Linked DNA regions of Homo sapiens. The protein of the gene in region 2 interacts with the protein of the main gene of each other region in a pairwise test. Each region holds a gene or a part of one and is shown on either strand. Other genes may lie near its edges.

The links.
Region 1: the proteins of MAFF (region 2) and BACH1 interact in binary tests that used the Homo sapiens proteins (3 or more experiments, as listed by UniProt).
Region 3: the proteins of MAFF (region 2) and NFE2L3 interact in binary tests that used the Homo sapiens proteins (3 or more experiments, as listed by UniProt).

What each region holds. Positions count from the first base shown.
Region 1 is NC_000021.9:29,293,958-29,302,274, reverse strand, and holds the start of BACH1 (transcription regulator protein BACH1), read right to left. Parts: upstream 3,354-8,317; 5' UTR 3,322-3,353; intron 2,901-3,321; exon of another isoform or gene 2,677-2,900; intron 1-2,676. UniProt on the Homo sapiens protein: Transcriptional regulator that acts as a repressor or activator, depending on the context. Binds to NF-E2 DNA binding sites. Plays important roles in coordinating transcription activation and repression by MAFK.
Region 2 is NC_000022.11:38,204,903-38,212,798, reverse strand, and holds part of MAFF (transcription factor MafF), read right to left. Parts: intron 1-7,896. UniProt on the Homo sapiens protein: Since they lack a putative transactivation domain, the small Mafs behave as transcriptional repressors when they dimerize among themselves.
Region 3 is NC_000007.14:26,182,652-26,187,987, forward strand, and holds the end of NFE2L3 (nuclear factor erythroid 2-related factor 3), read left to right. Parts: intron 1-1,049; coding exon 1,050-1,133; intron 1,134-1,881; coding exon 1,882-3,132; 3' UTR 3,133-4,486; downstream 4,487-5,336. UniProt on the Homo sapiens protein: Activates erythroid-specific, globin gene expression.

The DNA.
Region 1 (8,317 bases), on a different chromosome or scaffold from region 2:
TACCCATACCTTGGCCATCGGTACATTACCTCATTTGACATATATTTTAAATCAAAACAATCTCAAAAATCATCGTTCCACCACATAAAATAAACCCTCTGTCTAGAATGCTCAGGGAATGCAGGTTTTAGGGTTAAGACAATTCTCTCATTAACAGAACATTAGTCAGAAAATTAGAAGAGAGGTGGTGATTCCTAAAACGTAAGTCATGGAGAGATCAGCACTATGAAGAGAAAATCTGACAAGTGGTAATTTTAACGGGCTTTGCAACTGTTATTCTGAGCATCACCTCTCACAGTACAGGGGTGTAGAAGGCACATGGCACATGAGATTTAACTGAATGGTAAATACTAACCACCCTCACCGCCGCCACCCGCCCCCAGCACTAGTAGGAGGTTGATATTCTGAATAAATGCCACTTCCCAAGGGATTTACTGAATATGTCGTCTTATTAATCTTAAGAGAACATAAGCTTGGCAAAAAACAAACAAAAAAAAACAGACTTCAAGGAGTAACAGTACAAACTAATTTTTACATATGCTATACATATTACACTCCAATGTGTAGATTATCTTCAAGTATTTCCACTGCACCCTTTTACACATCACTGCACTTCAGATCACATACATTAAACCAACCGCTGGGCTTGTCTCCAAATTCAAAATACAGGTTATCAAATGAAATTCTGTATTTTTTGTATTTCCATCCCCAGTATCAACAATGTAACAAGAAATTTACACTCAAGCTTCTAAAGTAAAACATACAGACAATAGAACTACCTATAAAATAAAACTTAAATGGAATATTAACAGTCTGAAAGAACTCTTAGGAGGAAACCGTAAGTTAAAAGAAAAAGCATTCCGGTTGTTGAAAGAATGTTACTGACAGTGGTTAACAGGCTATGTTCCCCCAGCAACAAAGGGGTGGAGGACATGCACGCGCATTATATAATATGAATACACGATTGTTAGTCTGCATCTTTAAGCTTAATGTCTTTCTTATATTAAAGTTTTTAAAAGTTTTAATATATTCCTTCCAAATGAACCTCCTTGCACCCCACCTTGGAGGCCCTAATACTTACAAAATTCATGATTTCTAATCTCCTCTAGTCCCAGACTTAAAGGAACAAAATAAATCGTTTTTCCTAATACAGAATATTTTAAATGAACTACCATTAATAGGAATCATCATTTTTTTCACCAAAGGGCCAAATTCCCAGCTCTACATTTCCCATTCCTAAACTTTGTTTGCAATGAGGACTCATATAAATATTTGGGTTGTGTGCTCCTTTTTAAAGCAAGAAGCAATGACACCAGGTGTAAAGGCAGTGGTGTCATATAATCAAGACAATGAGACAGGTATTTACGGTTGGCTATTTATTAAACAGCTCTTTCGAGACTTAACCCAATGAGACCTATTAATTCCACCCATATGGTGCTTACCCTCCTCTGACTCCTGAAACTTCTTGTGTATGCATGAAAAGCCAAGGGCCATGAGAAACAGAGCAAGTCCCTTCTGTGTACTCATAACCAAATTTTTATGACGCACAAATTAAGCTCACTGCTTGAAACTTATAGACCACGTAACAGAAACCACAAAAAGGAAACTAAGTCCAGTAAGAGTAGTAAATATTTTTGTTACAATATTTTTTATTGGGTTACCCCTAGCTGCAAATTTCTTCCCCAGTTTTAGCTCTCTCCAGCGCAAATTTATTCTCAGACAGCAGGTCACGAGGCTCCGTCTTTAAACCCGCCTCAGTGCTATTGGCCACTGCCTAAGAGTGCTCTTCCACTTCACCCACTGATAACCTGTATCAAAACAACCCCAGCTGGGTCCCCTTCAGCCTTCTGAAGCAACCTCTCTAGAGCGCTCTTTGGCCTTTTATAGTGGAGGCATGTGATGAGAGTATTTGCACCAGCTGTTTCTAATTACCTCTCAAGCTGGGGCGAATGACTCAGCAACCCAACTTTTTAGAGAGTCATCCTACCTTGTTAACCAACCAACATACCGAACAACAGTAAACCACTTGACAGAAACATAGGTTAAACAACAATACAAGAATCACTACGCCAAAGTCACCCTACTCCAAGCTGACTCACCGGGAGCCTTTCTTCCCTAAGCTTCTTCAAGATGTCCAAAGGCAGAAGTGGCAAGTGCCTTCAAGCCCAGCCCAGCCCTTGCACCACTACCCAAAGACCAGGAAGAAGCAAGCCGACCTCTTCCCATTTCTCTGCTTGACTATGTGAAGCGCTCAAGTGCTCTGCCACTAACACATCTGGGATTTCCACCCTTTATCCTTCTGAACTGCATTCAATGCAGACCCTCTGATGTAAAGGGTGTTCAAATACATGATCAAATTCCCATAGCATCATCCATGGGTAACAGTCCCTACCCCTACACAATTCTCCAAAAAGCAAAGCATCCTACAAAACATTCTTTGTTCCTCCAAGCATGACATTGTAGCTCGTTTTCCTCATACACGTTCTTTCACAATTACTACTACACTTTACCTGGAATCAGCACAAGTTTAACGCAGAAGCCTCACTCCATAAAAGCATTCCGCACAATTCTACTCAATGACATGAAACTGCCGTGTAAGAATGAGAAAGCAACGGCACTCGTGTTACATTACACGAGCACAAAGCTGGTGTCTCCAGAATCAACGCCCACTCTCACCATATTGTGCGAGGCTTAATTACAACGCGTGGGCAAAACTCCAACAAAGGGAGTCCTGGGCTCTCCGGTCCCCAAAACCAGTCTTCGCTAAATCCAGCTCAGCACGGTGGCCTTCTCTCCCCAGCCACAAACTCGGCTTTTCTTACGCGATTCCACGCGCGACAGCCACCGGGCTGAGTAGACGCGAGGCTGGGCATGCGGTGGGAGGCGGCGGAGGACAATACGGGGCCCCAGCCGCGAGGGCGGTGCTGATGTGTCACAGCCCGGGCGGGCCGCGGGCGAGGGGCCGGGCTGGCGCCCGAGGGCAGGGAGGGGGGTGGGGCAGGGACCCCGCGGCCCCCAGCCCCCGCCCGCCCCGGGTAAAGTACGGCGCGCGCGGGTAAACAACAGCTCCGGCAGTGCAGGGGGTTCGGCCGCCGACGGGACGCCCCTTCCGGCGTCGCGGCCACTTCCAGGATCCCGGCCGCCGGCGCCCCCCGCGGGCCCCGATACGTGCCCCCCGCGCCCCGCCCAGCCCAGAAAGAGCCGCCCCCGGCCCGCCCGCGCCTTCACTGGACCTGTCCGCCGGCCTCCCCTCACAGGCCCGCGGCCCTGACCGCGCCAACCCTCCCGGAGAAGGGCCGGCGGGACGGCCGAGCCACTCACCAGAGCTGAGGCGCGGCGCGGCCCGACTGACTGAAGCGAGAGCGCCCGGCGGGCGGCGAGGGCAGCGGTCAGGTGACTCACTCCTTCCGCGCGGCCAGCCGCCCCCTCCCTTCTGCGCCGCTCTGCTGCCGCCACCTCGCGGCGCCAAAACCCCGCCCGCCCGCTGAAGGCCCCGCCCCCGGCGCCGAAGCCCCGCCCTGCCGCCCTCGAAGCCTCTGTCAGCGAACGAGCGCGCGCAATAGCGCGGGGCAGGGGTCGCCGCGGCCGGAAGCCCACGCGGGGGGTTGCAGGGACGGGTCGTAAGGGGCGGGGCGGGCCTCGAGGAGGCGGCGGTGGGGTCCCCGGACCTCCGCGCGTGGCACAGCCCGCATCCTGAACTGACTCCCACTCGAGGACCACCTCTCCTCTCCCTTCTGAGGGCGGAACGGAAAGGCCAAGCGCCTCCTCGCCTCGGGAGCTGCAGGACGCCCTAATTCAGCCGAGTCGCCGCGTGCCCGGGTGCCCGCGAACAGCAGGAGAGAGGACGGGCGCTGGCCCCACAGGGGTCGCTTTACCCCTTGAAGAGCTCCTCGCTGCCTGCCCTGGGGGTGGTGGGCGTCCAGGTTCACAGGGTACTTGAGCTTGCTGGGGTGGGGGTGTGTATGAAGTGCGTCCAGGGTTTTGTGGAGCGCGTCTAGCAGTTGCTCTACTTCTTACTGACAGTGAAACAAGGGCGCCCACGACAGGTGTTCCCTTTTCGCTGTCGCTGCCAGGAAGCTTCCAGCCAGGTTCAGCGCCCAGTGGTGTCAGCCGGCCCATCTCGAGCCTTGGTTCCGCTGTCATCTTCTGGTGCTTATTCTGGTGTTTATCCAACTGTCCGTTTTGAAATTATGTTCCCAAGCCATTTAACACCTCTGGAGAACCAAAGCACTGGCTGTCAGCGGAGCGGGATGCACGCGCAGCGGAGGGGACTGGGCACGCCAACCCCACGAGGGTTCCTGCGGAGATGACACGGACCTTGAGGTCTGAAGCCAAAGGACGATTTGTGTGAAGGGATTTTATTGTTAGCTTTGGAGCCAGCAACAAGAACACAGCCCTGGAGTTCCCGGGGCAAAAAGGATACCAAGATAATAATTCAGGTATTACGACTAACATGACTGCATTTGCACCCACAGGCTGTGGGACTTGGGGACGTTTGAGCTACATCCAAAATACATGAGAAAATCACACAAGTGAAATTGGATGAGAGTGCGAGGGGTGAAGTGATACATTATGACCTAGAATTAGGGGAGGCTTCCTGGAGCAGGTGACATTTGCATTGGGTCTTGATTGGGAAGAGTGGAACCCAGCAGTCTAGATAGGGTCCAGAGGTAGGAGGTACCTCGCATCCCAGGCTGCCTCAGTTCATGGTGAGAGTGCAGATATTTAGTGAAACAGGAGGAAAGGACACTTGGAAATACACCATGAAAGAAGGATTGAAGTTCTTGCAGACACATGGGAGTGTCCGAGGCTTTATTCTCCTTCCACCTTGAGCCAGTGGAATTGCAGTGTCTTTTTTCTACACCTATGCAGTTTTTTCTACACCTGTGCAGTTTTTTCTAGGGGAAGATCAGACCCTCCTCTTTGGGAGGAACTCTTGCTTCTTTAGATAATAGCAGTGACATTTTCTAGCCTGAAAATTATGATGTATGCCCTGATAGGTTTAATTATTTGAGAAGTTCTCACAAAGGTATACAGATGTGCTAAGAGTATCAAGTCAAGTGAGTGACTCTCAAGCTTCATTATGGGGAAGAATATTTGGTTTGCTTGTTAAAATGCAGATTCCGGCCGGGAGCAGTGGCTCATGCCTGTAATCCCAGCACTTTCAAAGGCCAAGGCGGGCGGATCACGAGGTCAGGAGATCGACATGGTGAAACCCCGTTTCTACTAAACCCCAACATGGTGAAACCCCGTTTCTACTAAAATACAAAAAATTAGCCAGGCATGATGGTGTGCGCCTGTAGTCCCAGCCGCTCAGGAGGCTGACACAGGGGAATCGCTTGAACCTGGGCGGTGGAGGTTGCAGTGAGCTGAGATCGCGCCACTGCACTCCAGCCTGGCGACAGAGCAAAACTCTATCTCAAAAAAAAAAAAAAAAAAAAAAATGCAGATTCCTGGGTCCCACCCCCAAAAGATGCTAATTTTGTAGATCTGAGTAGGACCTAAGGGTCTGCATTTTTAATACTGAAGCATGTGGTCTTCAAGCTTATGGCATGTAGTAGGGACAGGACGAAAAATGAAACTGGAGAATGAAATGAAACCGAGTCAGTATGAGAAGGGCCTCATGCACAGCACCTGGAGTTTGGACTTCATCCCGTGGTCTGCAATAAGTGAGTAGAGGTTTCTAAGTCATGTGGTTATTTTTAAAAGCTAATTCTAGTATTGAGAAGGAATGGGAGTGGAAACAGATAGTAGGTTGAATGAAGGAATGAATGCAGTAAAATGCTCAGTGAAAGATGTGGCACTTTTTGTTTTCAGTATTCTCTTGCTTTGAACCAAAACCACTTAGAATGTATTTCTTTTAAAACCTGTATGTCAGTGTAAATATTCACAAACAACTGTATGTTCTGACCTATGTCTTCTGGACTTCCAGAGTTAGCATTAACATTATTAGCTGCCAGGCCAACAAAACCTTGAGTAATCCTGCAATACTCGGAATCAAGAAAAGTGGCTACATCATGGTCAACTTTGAAGAACATCAGCCTCAAGATCTTTTATACTAACTCATATGTTTATTAAAATCTATTACTAAAACAGATTTTTAAAAATTATCTTGAGGTTATAATGAGACATAGTGCTTCTACCTAATTCCTATTGGGAAAAAAAAATGTTGAGATTTGGGGACCAAGAAAAAAAATTCTGATCGCTTTTTTTTTTTTTTTTTTTGAGATGGTGTCTCTCTCTGTCACGCAGGCTTGGAGTGCAGTGGCATGATTTTGTCTCACTGCAACCTCTGCCTCCCGGGTTCAAGTGATTCTCCTGCCCCAGCCTCCTGAGTAGCTGGAATTTCAGGCACCCACCACCAAGCCCAGCTAATTTTTGTATTTTTAGTAGAGACAAGGTTTCACCATGTTGGCCAGGCTGATCTCAAACTCCTGACCTCAAATGATCCACCTGCCTTGGCCTCCCAGAGTGCTGGGACTACAGGCATGAGCCACCGCTCCCAGCTGATTGCTTTCAATTAGTATTGATAATAGTTTGAAACTGGGACAAGTAGCCTAGTCTTGGCAGTCTTTCTGCTCCTTAGCTCAGCTAGGTCCAAGTTCTTGTCTCACAACCAGGAAAAACTAGGCACACAGACACCGGAAAGTGAGTGGAGTGGAATTGATTAAGCAAAAGGAAAGCTCTCAGCAAAGAGCGAATGCTGGGAGCAGTTCCCCTACCCGAAAGTGGGAAAATCCCCTCTCATGTGGCTGAGCCTGGGGCTTTTATGCACTCAGAATGGGGAGTGCATGCTGATTGGTTTGTGAGTTTGCAAAAAAAGGTTAAAGCAAAGACACCACTCAAAGGCAGGCACGACAGTGTAGAAAACCAATTAGAAAGGGTAAGTATACGTAAAATAGGTGAAGGGTGGAGATCAGAGGAAAGCGTGCCAAACAGGAAGACAAGTTCTCAATCTAGTCTGAAAATTTAACTTGTAGTTTGGCTTTCAGGCTTTAAACTGTCTTCAGCTTGGAGGTGGGGTTTCACCGGGGACCTGCCTCTATCTGCCTAGGCGTTTGACTGTCTTCTGTTGCTGTCACTAGTAGCACAATATAAAGATTTTGTGCTACTGTTTCACAGTGATTTGCAATTAGTGCTTTTTTTTGTCATGTAGTTTTGTTTTTAGTGCATTATTCTTTAGGAGAATTTATCCGTGAAGCTTGGGTATCACAGCTTACTGCTATGTCCTTGATTTATACTTCTCATTGACTGTGAGAAGTGATGGCTAGTTTTCCTGCTGTGAGCAGGTTTGGTGATATACAATACCATTCGCAAGATGTTATATATGTGCATTGTCACATTTCTTTCAAAAATGATATTTCCAATTTTTCCAAACATTCATATCTTCTTTCTGGCCATCATACTGATTTTATTACCAAAATAAAATCTTATCATTAACTCTGAAAACAATTTAAATAACTATAAGCCATAGTTAGGGAATGATTTTTAATAAAACCTAGATACAAACACCATCATTTTCTCCTCTAATAGCAGGTTGTCTTGCCTGACTCTCAAAAATGAGGGAGCTAAATCATACAGATAGGTGACATGTTCATGGCTATAAGGAACACCATAGCATAATATTTGGACAGTAAGACATAATACATATCCTGAAAAAACTTTGATGTGTAGTCAGTGTAACCCTTGTCCCCTGTCCTCCTCCCTAACCTCAGGAAAGATCCACACTTCCACATTTATTCCCTACCCACCTTTGGTTTTGAATCCTCATTTCCACAGATGCAGCATGACATCTGTAACCCCTACAAATCTGCATACCCCTCCAGCCTTCCCAGAACTTCATTCCCTCCATCTTCATTGCCTTAGCTCCTTTTGTCTTTAAGTATTCACTCACTAAGTCAAGAAAATATTGGAGGGGGGGTGGGGCAAAACAACTAGGCTTTAAAGGTGGGGGATTACCCAGATCAACACAAGTCTCCCACTTGAACAACTGCTCTTTGACACCTGTACCCTGAGATGTGACTATGGATTAAAGTCATAGCACCCCTGCCTCCAGGTTGGAAAGTTTTATGGAAAATGAACATATTTTATTAGAAGACAATGAGAACTTCCTGGAGCAGATGAGTAAACACACCCTCATGTTTACCTGATAACTGAAATCAAAGATGAGGTGTAGCCTCTGGTTTGAAATGTTACAAAGTGTAAAATTAAGATAAAGGCAGAAAAATGAAAAGGAAATAGCCAGTTTTGAAGCAGAAGAACTCAGTGGGACAGGGGCCAAATCAGTGAAAGAGGTGCTGCTCAGATACCAGATTTA
Region 2 (7,896 bases):
AGCCCATCCAGCACCCCGTAAGATACAACATCAGCCAGTCCCCTCTCTCCCCAGGCCTCCTTCATCTAGACCTCTGTTTTGGGAAAGTTTTCCCAACCTCCTGGGGGCTGCCCCATACTAACTCAGCATGCCCTAGGCAGATGGGGCAGCCATCCCTAGACCAATGAGGGCCTCTCATCTCCTAATCCTCCCTCCCACAGGCCTGACAGCCACATGCTCCTTCAACAACTATTTATTGAGCTCTTTGCCAAACATGTACTTGGTAATGGGGAGAAAAAGGTGAATAAAACTCGTGGAGGGTCAGTGGTCATTGCTCTGGGCTGGAGAAGGGGACCATCTCCCAAAGTCCCCTTTAAAGCAGCAGTCCTCTCTGTCTCTAGCTGATAGGATCTACTTTGCCAATCCTCTCAGGTTCTCCGCCATGAGAACCTGAGTTTTCTCATCTGTCTCCAAGGGGAGGGGGCAGTGATAAGAAGCCAAGGAAAATAAAGGAAGATAGGCTGGGCGCGGTGGCTCACGCCTGTAATCCCAGCACTTTAGGAGGCTGAGACGGGCAGATCACCTCAGTTCAGGAGTTCAAGACCAGCCTGGCCAACATGGCAAAACCCTGTCTCTACCAAAAACACAAAAATTAGCCCAGGCGTGGTGGTGCATGCCTGTAGTCCCAGCTATTTGAGAGGCTGAGGCAGGAGAATTGCTTAAACCTGGGAGGTGGAGGTTACAGTGAGCCGAGATTGCGCCACTGCACTCCAGCCTGGGAGCCTGGGTGACAGAGTGAGACTCCATCTCAAAAAAAATAAATAAATAAAAAGAAAACAAAGGAAGATGCTTTGTGATCTGAGCTGTAGCATCCTATAAACACGTACCGTATCGGAAAGAGCATCACCCAGTTTTGTGGACAGCAGAGGGCAAAAGCCAGATCCAAGTCCTGGTTCCTTGAGCTGTCTACAGGGTTGACCTCACGGGTTGGCTCAGCCTCTGACACATTCTGGCAGGACCGGGGTGTCTCCCAGGGACAAGGTGCAGAAATGGAAAGCACATGGACCTTGGTGCCAGACACACCTGGGGCCTTTTGGGGGTGGTCTCGCTCTCTAGTTGTGTGGTTCTGATAGGTCAGCCACTCTTTCTGTGCCTCACTTTCCCCCTGGGTGACACAGGTAGCTGTGTTAAGTCAGCTCATGTCACACCTCTCTCAGGACCTTCCCACGGCTCACTGGAGTAAAGCCAGAGTTGTCACCATGGCCCACAAAGTGCTGCAGAAAGTGATCCCCAGTGGCCGGGCGCGGTGGCTCACGCCTGTAATCCCAGCACTTTGGGAGGCCAAGGCGGGTGGATCATGAGGTCAGGAGATCGAGACCAGCCTGGCCAACATGGTGAAACCCCGTCTCTACTAAAAATACGAAAATTAGCCGGGCGTGGTGGCACGTGCCTGTAGTCCCAGCTACTTGGGAGGCTGAGACAAAAGAATCGCTTGAACCCGGGAGGCGGAGGTTGCAGTGAGCCAAGATTGTGCCACTGCACTCCAGCCTGGGCGAGAGTGAGACTCCGTCTGAAAAAAAAAAAAAAAAGAAAGTGCTCCCCAGCATCCCTTCTCCAACCTCAGCCCTACTTGGCTTCCTTTTGTTTCCCCTGCCTCAGCCACACCCGCCCTTCCTCAACACAGGATGCACGCTCCTCTCCAGGGCCTTTGCACTGGCTGGTCCCTCTGCTGGCGTTTTTGTTTTTGTTTTTGTTTTTTATACAGGGTCTCACTCACTCCGTTACAGGCTGGAGTGCAGTGACACGATCACAGCTCATTGCAGCCTCAAACTCCCAGGCTCAAGTGGTCCTCCTACCTCAGCCTCCCTAGTAGCTGGAACTATAGGTGCATGCCACCACACCTGGCCAATTTTTGTACTTTTTGTACAGACAGAGTTTCATCATGTTGCCCAGGCTGGTCTTGAACTCCTTGGCTCAAGCGATCCGCCTGCCTCCGCCTCCCAAAGTGTTGGGATTATAGGCATGAGCCACGACGCATGGCCTCTGTTGGCATCCTTGTTCCCTAGATATCCACAAAGTTTGCTCCATCACCTCCTGAGGTCTCTTCAAATCTCATGTTCACTCAGTTTAGAATTTGCAACCCCTGATACACACACGGACACACACACACACACACACACACACACACACACACACTCCCTGTGTCCCTTCCCCACCTCAGGTTTCCCCATGTGTAATTGTCATCACTCACATATATGGTGGTTATTTGTTCAGTGTCTGTCCCTCCCAACCCCCCGATTAGAATGCCAGCTCCATGAGGGCAGAACTTATACCTGATTCACCGCGGCCTCCCCCATGCCTAGAACCGCGCCTGGCACCTCGCAGATACTCAAGGAATCCTTGCTGAGTTCTCAGTGTGACTCAGGCCAAGGTGGGGACAGTCCAGGGCTTCTCAGGAAACTCCCCAGCTCCTCCCAGCCCACACAGTCAGGGGGTCTGGCAGCTCACAGGGAAGGAAGGAGTGGGACAGAAGGAAGTTGGCGCTTGCAGAGATCCCCTGACAGGGGCAGCCACTGTGGCCCTTAAGCAGGAGAGTCTTAGGGGTCACCCAGGTTTCGCTGGGGGTAGCTGGGTGGACCCAGAGTGCCAGGTCAGGACCCAGGCAGCTTTAGACCCCTGTGCGGATCCACGGTGAAGACCAGTGGCTTCATGGGGTGACCCCTGAGCTGCGACCCCCCACTGCTGAACATGCCGGCTTAGCCTGGGCTCTGGCCTCAGTTTCCCTGCCTAGCACTCCAAATCCTAGGGGGCTCAGGCCCTGGCTGCCCACCTAGCTCTCCTTGGGGGCCTCTGTGCACTCCCATCCTACCTGGAAAAGTCATATGAGATCTGCTGGCTACCCTGACCTTTCAGATACTATCTGGAGACGTTTACATGTCAACCTCACCGATCCTACCTTTCAATGCAGGCCTTTTTTTTTTCCCTTTTTTTTTTTTTTTTTTTTTTGAGATGGAGTCTCGCTCTGTCGCCCAGGCTGGAGTGCAGTGACAGGATCTCAGCTCACTGCAACCTCCGCCTCCTGGGTTCAAGCGATTAGCTCTGCCTCAGCCTCCTGAATAGCTGGGACTACAGGCGCCTACCACCACGCCCAGCTAATTTTTGTATTTTTAGTAGAGACAGAGTTTCACCATATTGGTCAGGCTGGTCTCGAACTCCTAACCTCAGGTGATCCACCTGCCTCGGCCTCCTGAAGTGCCGGGATTACAGGTGTGAGCCACCACGCCCAACCCAATGCAGGCCTCTTAAGTGGTCACCCTCACCACCCTACACACACCTGGGGAGGTCCCAGCACACCTCCCTGCTGGTCTCAGCTCATTCCCACACAGCAGCTGGACAATCTTTGCACCACGCGAATCTGACCATGCCACCAGCCAGATTAAAGCCTTCCATGGTTCGGCTGGGCAAGGTGGCTCATGCCTATAATCCCAGCACTTTAGGAGGCTGAGGCGGGCGGATCACAAGGTAAGGAGATTGAGACCATCCTGGCTAACATGGTGAAACCCCGTCTCTACTAAAAAATACAAAAAATTAGCCGGGTGTGGTGGCAGGCACCTGTAGTCCCAGCTATCAGGAGGCTGAGGCAGGAGAATGGCGTGAACCCGGGAGGTGAAGCATGCAGTGAGCCGAGATCGCGACACTGCACTCCAGCCTGGGCGACAGAGTGATACTCCATCTCAAAAACAAACACAAAAACAAACAAGCAAACAAAAAAAAAACCTTCCATGGTTCCCTACTATCCTAAGGATGGAGTCCAGACCCACCCTCCCAGCACCCCAGGCCCTGTGTGTCCAGCCCCACGCCCATTTCCCACCACTGCCACCTCCACTCTGTGCTCCAGCCACACAGAATTTCTTTCACTTCCTCCCACCCGCGCTTTCTTGCCTCTGAGCCACCTCCCACCCCATGATATTTCTCTCCCCTCACTCCCCTCTACTTTGTTTGGCAGACTCCTACTCATCCTTCGGCCCTGGGTGCAGACATCTCCTCCTCCAGGAAGCCCTCCCTGATCCCTAGGACTTGTTAGGGACCCCCACCCCTGTGTGTAATGGGTTGTATTTCCTTGCTGTCTCTCCACCAGACAGGGAGAGGCTGAGTCAGCTCTGGGTGCTTGAGGCCACCCATCTCAAGACCTGGCAGGGAGCAGGCACTGGGGAAGGGTGGATGGTCAGAGTCTCTGACGCCATCACCCAGCTTGTCACCAAGCCGGGTTCCAAGCCGAAACGTAGTTCAGTACCTCCTGGCCCTGTCTCTAATTCTTCCTCCTCTCCAGCTGCTTCCTTGGGCCTGTTGGCAGAGACAGTACAGATGCTAGGCGAATGGGAAGAGAGCAGAGGGGATCCCATCCACGTGACTTTGGGCCCAAAGGTGGGGTGTGGGAAACAGGGAAAGGAGCACTGGATTGGGAGTCAAGCTTGGGTTTAAGTCGCATCTCTGTTTTCTCAGGCTGTGTGACCTGGGGTGAGCCACTCCATCTCTCTGGGTCTCCACTTTCCCATCTAAAGGATCGGAACAATACCTGCCTCGCAGGGTTTTGGTGGAATCAAGTGGTATACACTGTAGAGGTCAGTGAGCAGCTGGGAGGTTAGAATTGCTGTCTGTCCAGGAGGGGTCAGGCCTGTAGCCAGCACTGGGGTCTCGCTCTGATTTAGCATCTCCCAGCTGGCTGGGGTCACACAGGGAACTGCAGGAAAGGCCCTTAGAGGCCATCAGGTCCTGCCTCCTCCCTTTACCCAAGGGGAGGTAGAGACCCAGAGAGGGGCAGCACTTGCCTGAAGTCACACAATAGGTGTGAATGAATAGCTGCAAAGGCCCAGGACTGAAACCTGGTCCCTTCACACCGTCACCTCCCTGGTTCGCCCAACCCTGAGGTAATGCCCAGAGAGGACAATAGAGTAGTCCAGGCTCATACAGCCAGCATGGGGTAGAATTCAGGCCTGAGAGTTCAAGACCAACCTGGGCAAGATGGCTAGACTCCATCTCCAAAAAATAAAAAGATTAGCCGGGTGCAGTGGTGCACACCTATAGCCCCAGCTACTCAGGAGGCTGAGGCAGGAGGAACCATTGAGCCCAGGAATTCAAGGCGGCAGTGAGCTGTGATCCCGCCACTGCACTCCCTGGGTGACAAAGCAAGACCCCGCCTCTTAAAAAAAAAATTAGCCGGGTGTGGTGGTGGGCGCCTGTAGTCCCAGCTACTGGGGAGGCTGAGGCAGGAGAATGGCGTGAACCCGGAGATGGAGCTTGCAGTGAGCTGAGATCGCGCCACTGCACTCCAGCCTGGGTGACAGAGCGAGACTCTGTCTCAAAAAAAAAAAAAAAAAAAAAAAAAAAAAAAAAAAGATGGCCAAGCAAGGTGGCTCATGCCTGTAATCCCAGCACTTTGGGAGGCCGAGGTGGGCGGATCATGAGGTCAGGAGACTGAGACCATCATGGCTAACACAGTGAAACCCTGTCTGTACTAAAAATACAAAAAATTAGCTGGGCCTGGTGGCACACACCTGTAGTCCCAACTACTCAGGAGGCTGAGGCAGGAGAATCGCTTAGAACCTGGGAGGCAGAGGTTGCAGTGAGCCGAGATTACGCGACTGCACTCCAGCCTGGGTGACAGAGCAAGACTCCATCTCAAAAATAATAATAATAATAATAATAGAATTCAGGCCTGAGGCCACATGGAGCCACACACCTCCTCCCTGTGTGGCCCTGGCAGGGCGACCTCCCTGGGCCCTGTTTCCCTAGCCCTGTGAAGATGAAGCTGGACTTGCCAGTTTCCAAGGCCACCCCAGCTCTGATTCTCCAGGATTTGTGTTGGGCCCGCTAGGGATACGATTTGCAAGTTACAGTTAAGTATCCAGGCCCCCTTACCAGCCGTTTGGGGAGCTGGCACGTGCAGTGATGCTTGGCCACCTGAGCTACACAGAAAGACCCAATGGGAGAAGGGAAGCCTCTCCCCACGCAAGTTAATCAACTGCCCTTTGGGTGTTGCGGCTGATACAGAACCTCAGAGGCACAGTCTGGCCTCATGCACAAGTCATTTTTCCTGAGTCCTGGATTCCTTGCTAAGTGGGAATAATCACAATAATCTTGGTGTGTAAAATATAAAGGCTTAGGCAAGGCCAGGCGTGGTGGCTCACGCCTGTAATCCCAGCACTTTGGGAGGCCAAGGTGGGCAGATCATCTGAGGCCAGGAGTTCAAGAACGGCCTGGCCAACATGGTGAAATCCTGTCTCTACTAAAGAAAAAAAAAAATGCAAAAATTAGCCAGGTGTGGTGGCGCACACCTATAGTCCCAGCTACTTGGGAGGCTGAGGCAGAAGAATTGCATGAACCCGGGAGGTGGAGGTTTCAGTGAGCTGAGAACAAGCCACTGGACTCCAGCCTGGGCAACAGAGCGAGACTCCATCAAAAAAAAAAAAAAAAAAAAAGGAGGCATAGGCAAGAAAGATCACCTCATCTCACCATCATCCCACTATCCACAAGCAACAGAGACATCACTAACCACACACAGCACCAATTCCCAGTGAGGCAGGCCACAGCCCCTGAGTCTTTCTCAGCACAGAACTGTTTTCTCCTGAGCTTGGACACAGCCTAGAATCCTCAACACTGCCTCCAGACCAGGCCTGAGAGATGGAACCATCAGCCATTCCCTATCCTTGATAATAGCGGAAGCTGGCTGTGATTGTAAATACCCTCAGGTGCTAGGAAGGTTTTGAACCTGCTCTTCCCCCACTCCTCCATGCCCTCCTGTCCGAGCCTCAGCCCCCTCAACCGCATCCTGGATGTCAGCTGAGGCACCCACGTTTGCCCAGGAATGTCCTAGCTCAGCAGTCAGGCAATCACAGGGGGAAAGTCACAAGAAGGGGGAACTTTCTGGTAACCTCAGGCTTTCCGCTGCCAACCCCAGGCCAGGGGCTGCCAAGGGGCCTGGGTCCTCTGCCTTTGCCAGGCTGGCTGACCCTGGGCCTGAGAAATAGTAGCTGATCCGATCCCCTGTTCAGCACCTGAGGCAACCAAGCCACTGTTTGGTAGCCGTGGCGGACTGGAACCCAGGGGTCCTCTGTCTTCTATGTCGGCCACCACCACCTCTCCCTGGCTTCTTCCCTTGGAAGCCAGCAGAGCTGACCTCCAGGGTCTGCAGGTTCATGACGTCTTCTGGAGGCATAAGGAGAGAGGTGACTCTTGAGGGACTGACAACTGCCTTGTCCAGTCAGCAGCCACAACCCTCCAACGTCCCCCTCCCTGGCCCCACCAGTCCACTCCAGAGACATCCTGTAGAAGGCCCACCCGCTGGCATGGGCTCCTTTCTGGCTGCTGAGCCATTCTGCTCGCTCTGTGAGGACAGGGAAAAAATGTGTTTTCCTAGCTCTTGGCAGTCAGCACTGCTGGAGCCTCCTCCCTGCTGGAAGGGGAGCAAGGCTGGAAGAACCAAGCACCACAGAGAAGCAACGGCCTGGGGTTCCAGCCCCAGTTCAGGTACCCTCTCACACTCGCTGTGTGGCCTCAGGTACGGCACTCCCTCTCTCTGGGCCTCAGTTTTCCCACTATGCCAAACGTCCTCCGAGCCTAAGGTACCTTCCAACAATGACTGTCTCTGAGTTTAGAGTTTCAGATTCTGGCCCAGAGCTCCAAGACCACCAGCAGAATGGAGGTAGGGAAAGGAAAGCGGTGAAGGCTTCCTGGAGGTGGGGGCATGAGACACAAACTATCAGACTATCAGACTAGCCCTCTTCTCCACCTGCACAGCCACAGACCACTTCCTCCTTCATCTGGACCATGACCACAACCGCCTGCTCACCAGCCTCTTGCCTTGCCCTCCGTCTCCAATCCCCATCATTGATCCTCCCCCAAGAGCTGTCAGAGGAA
Region 3 (5,336 bases), on a different chromosome or scaffold from region 2:
GGTTTACTGCTCAGGTCCTCTCTAAAAAGAACTCTGAAGAGTTCTTTCAACTAGAAAGAGGCTAAAGCATAAAGGCCAGGAGTGAGATGAAGCATCGATAAATTGGTTTTAAAAAAACAAATTGGAGTAAATGTAAATAAGTATTGACTGTAAAAATATTTTTTGAGACGAGATCTCATTCTGTTAGGCTGGAGTGTGGCAGCGCTGTCACGACTCACTGCAGCCTCAACCTCCTGGACTCAGGCAGTCCTCCTGCCTCACCATCCCGGAGTAGCTGGGACCACAGGTGCACACCACCACACCCAGCTAATTTAATTTGTAGAAACGGTCTTGTTGTGTTGCCCAAGCTGGTCTCCAACTCCTGGGCTCAGGCGATCTGCCTGCTTTGGCCTCCCAAAGTGCTGGGATTACAAGCGTGAGCCACCACACCTGGCCAAAATTATATAATTGTGTAACCAACTGGGAGGGCTGGCTATGGAGGGGCAAAATAAGCTGAAACTAACAATTAGCCAAAAATTACATGGAAGTTGTTTATGGTAGGAATAGAAATACTGATTAGCTTTGGACTTTTAAGTATGCATGTTGAAATACTGAGTACCATAATCAGAGAAATAGGTCAGCTGCAGTGGCTCACGTCTGTAATCCCAGCACTTTGGGAGGCCTAGGTGGGTGGATCACTTGCGGTCAAAAGTTCGAGACCAACTTGGCCAACATGGTGAAACCCTGTCTCTACTAAAAATACAAAAATTAGCCAGACGTGGTGGTGCACAGCTGTAATCCCAGCTACTCCGGAGGCTAAGGCAGGAGAATCCTTTGAACCTGGGAGGCAGAGGGTGTAGTGAGCCGAGATTGCACCACTGCACTCCATTCTGGGCCAGAGTGAGATCCGTCTCAAAATATAATAAAAAGTAGAACTTCCAACCAAGGAACATAATAGCATAAAAATCCAGTGTGGAAATAATACCTGGTGATCCTTTAAAGATAAAGCCTAAAGCCCCAACCAGTTCAGTCTTTTATGTGAAAGATGCACTTTTTGTGTTTCTCTACAGAGACATCTGAATGGGACAGATACTTCTTTCTCTCTGGAAGACTTATTCCAGTTGCTTTCATCACAGCCTGAAAATTCACTGGAGGTAATTGGAACTTTGGCTTTTATCCTCGCAGGAACATATCTGCACTGACCTTTTGGTGAACAAATACAACTCCTTTACTTGGATGACACAGCAGTTTAAAGTAATGCTTATTTTTACAGAAGCACTTCAGCTTAGAATTAACCAAATATGTATAGCATTCCTCTTTCCAAATAATCCCAAAGGTATAATCAAATTTAGACTAGTCATGGAAAACAGCGTGGAGATTTCTCAAAAAACTAAAAGAATTATCAGGTATTTATCCAAAGGAAAGGAAATCAGTGTATCAAAGGGACACCTGCACCCCCATGTTTATTGCAGCAATATTCACAATAGCCTTGTAGTTTTAGCGCTTAGAGGCATTTAAACAGCCTCTCTCCTCCAGACTACTTCACTGTAGTTTATTATCCCTGACCCTCCACAATGTGATTACCAACCGCTAGGATGAGTTGCATCTTATTATAAAGTAGCAAATTACAAGATTGTAACATTAGACTTTTTAAGAAAATCCAGTCAGCTTTTATACTAATCCATCTTAATTTCTAGGTTACTCAGAATTCCAGGTATTCTGATTTGGACTCACATCTCGTATTGTATTGCCTGTATTTAACTAGGAAGTTACTGCCAACAGCATCTATCTCTATTAAATGTAGAGGAATTGACAAAAGAGGGGAAAGAAAGTTGTTAGGTAATAGAACTGCTTCAGAAATAGGGCTATTCATGTTTGAAGTGTTTCTCCTTCGTTTTTCAGGGCATCTCATTGGGAGATATTCCTCTTCCAGGCAGTATCAGTGATGGCATGAATTCTTCAGCACATTATCATGTAAACTTCAGCCAGGCTATAAGTCAGGATGTGAATCTTCATGAGGCCATCTTGCTTTGTCCCAACAATACATTTAGAAGAGATCCAACAGCAAGGACTTCACAGTCACAAGAACCATTTCTGCAGTTAAATTCTCATACCACCAATCCTGAGCAAACCCTTCCTGGAACTAATTTGACAGGATTTCTTTCACCGGTTGACAATCATATGAGGAATCTAACAAGCCAAGACCTACTGTATGACCTTGACATAAATATATTTGATGAGATAAACTTAATGTCATTGGCCACAGAAGACAACTTTGATCCAATCGATGTTTCTCAGCTTTTTGATGAACCAGATTCTGATTCTGGCCTTTCTTTAGATTCAAGTCACAATAATACCTCTGTCATCAAGTCTAATTCCTCTCACTCTGTGTGTGATGAAGGTGCTATAGGTTATTGCACTGACCATGAATCTAGTTCCCATCATGACTTAGAAGGTGCTGTAGGTGGCTACTACCCAGAACCCAGTAAGCTTTGTCACTTGGATCAAAGTGATTCTGATTTCCATGGAGATCTTACATTTCAACACGTATTTCATAACCACACTTACCACTTACAGCCAACTGCACCAGAATCTACTTCTGAACCTTTTCCGTGGCCTGGGAAGTCACAGAAGATAAGGAGTAGATACCTTGAAGACACAGATAGAAACTTGAGCCGTGATGAACAGCGTGCTAAAGCTTTGCATATCCCTTTTTCTGTAGATGAAATTGTCGGCATGCCTGTTGATTCTTTCAATAGCATGTTAAGTAGATATTATCTGACAGACCTACAAGTCTCACTTATCCGTGACATCAGACGAAGAGGGAAAAATAAAGTTGCTGCGCAGAACTGTCGTAAACGCAAATTGGACATAATTTTGAATTTAGAAGATGATGTATGTAACTTGCAAGCAAAGAAGGAAACTCTTAAGAGAGAGCAAGCACAATGTAACAAAGCTATTAACATAATGAAACAGAAACTGCATGACCTTTATCATGATATTTTTAGTAGATTAAGAGATGACCAAGGTAGGCCAGTCAATCCCAACCACTATGCTCTCCAGTGTACCCATGATGGAAGTATCTTGATAGTACCCAAAGAACTGGTGGCCTCAGGCCACAAAAAGGAAACCCAAAAGGGAAAGAGAAAGTGAGAAGAAACTGAAGATGGACTCTATTATGTGAAGTAGTAATGTTCAGAAACTGATTATTTGGATCAGAAACCATTGAAACTGCTTCAAGAATTGTATCTTTAAGTACTGCTACTTGAATAACTCAGTTAACGCTGTTTTGAAGCTTACATGGACAAATGTTTAGGACTTCAAGATCACACTTGTGGGCAATCTGGGGGAGCCACAACTTTTCATGAAGTGCATTGTATACAAAATTCATAGTTATGTCCAAAGAATAGGTTAACATGAAAACCCAGTAAGACTTTCCATCTTGGCAGCCATCCTTTTTAAGAGTAAGTTGGTTACTTCAAAAAGAGCAAACACTGGGGATCAAATTATTTTAAGAGGTATTTCAGTTTTAAATGCAAAATAGCCTTATTTTCATTTAGTTTGTTAGCACTATAGTGAGCTTTTCAAACACTATTTTAATCTTTATATTTAACTTATAAATTTTGCTTTCTATGGAAATAAATTTTGTATTTGTATTAAAAATTAACTTTTCCCTTTTATACAGAATCTGAACCAAATTTACCTTACTTTCCTTCCAAAATATCCACATTCAGGAATATAGGTGAATAACAAATAAGGCAGCATAGCAAACTGCTCAGACTCAAGCCAAATTGAGGTCAACATAGTATGCCAAATCCATAGTAAGGCAAATCCACCCCCCTACCCCAATACTTAACACACAGAATACTATGTGATATAGAATGCACTGAAGACCTACGGTCACTGGTAGTTTGAGCCACAGGCCTTCCTCATGTAACCAGAGACAGAATGGGCTACTTGCAAAAACGTAACTCCTTGTGTGTATATTAAATCCATAAAATCTCTGGCAGTAAAGCCAGCCTGAAGGGATGGCCTCACCATCTTAGAATACTGAGATCTCACCAGAACACTGTAAGCCATATAAACAGTAGGGAAAGAGTCAGCAACAGTGAAACCATCTGTTTAAAATGGGCAAAAGCGATTAAGGGAAAAAAAACAGGTGAATTTGAAAATAAACCAGGGTAAGGTAAATTCTAGAAATAATAGCATTTGAAATGAAAACCTCACTTAAGTTCACTAGAACAGTAAACAGGAGATTGCTGAATTTTTTGAAGACAGCAATGACCTCACCTAGATGACTCAAGTTTGGGGAACATCAAGATTTTGACGGGTACTATAATGCTTAATATGTCCAAATTTTCAAAATGAAGTTTCTCAGATATTATTTCTGCCATAGGAGCTACAGTGTAGAGTATCACATAAGTATCTTGGGCTAGAGAAATGCAGTTTATATATACCGTTGGATTTTTATAATAAAGTTTCCCAAGACCTGTTATTTTGCCAGAAATGCTTCTAGTATGCTTCTAGATAAAATTGCCCCTTCAGTGACTCATGGTGTTCAAATGATCATTTTAGTCTGTTGCTTTTTACAAGGGAGTATTTCAAATGTCTTAAGCTTTTGATAATTATAATTTAAGAACACACATAAAACATTTCAGTAGGAAATCCTACTAAGTACACTCAAAAGAGTGCCTGCTTATCAGATAGCATTCTTTTCAAACCTCTAAAATAAAAGACAGTGGAGAGCAGAATCGGTAATCATGGTGACTCTTGTTACCCATGCTGAAGTGCAGTGGCCCCAATAAAAGATCCAGCCTCAAACTCCTGGACTGCCTCAGCCTCCCGAGCTGCTCAGATTATGGACCGCCATGCCTGGCCTGAAGTTTAAACTCTAAAAACCCTTAAATATAGCACACACAGATCTAGTAACTGCAAACTGAATATATTTAAAGATGGTAGTGTCTGTACTGAACTTTATTCCCCATACATAATGCAGCATACCATTTACCTAGCTTCTACCTTGGATTAAATATTGGGTAACCTAGACAACTCAAGTGTATGAGATGTGCTTAGACCACGTGCAAATACACGTTTCATACAAGGGGGCTAGAGCATCCACATTTTGGTATTGTGGAGGTTCCTGAAACTGATGGGCCCCTCTCCCATCAAGGGACTTTTAATCGGCGCATTAAGCAGCCAGCGTCACAAGCTCTAATTGGCTATGGGCTGGCTTCCTGACATAACCCTGCCTCCATCTTAACATGCTGGATTCAAGGTATATAAACTGCAACTGCTTTTCTGACAGTCCAGTTTTAGAGGCAGAAGGGAATTCCACATTCGGCTTCCAGTGCAAACCA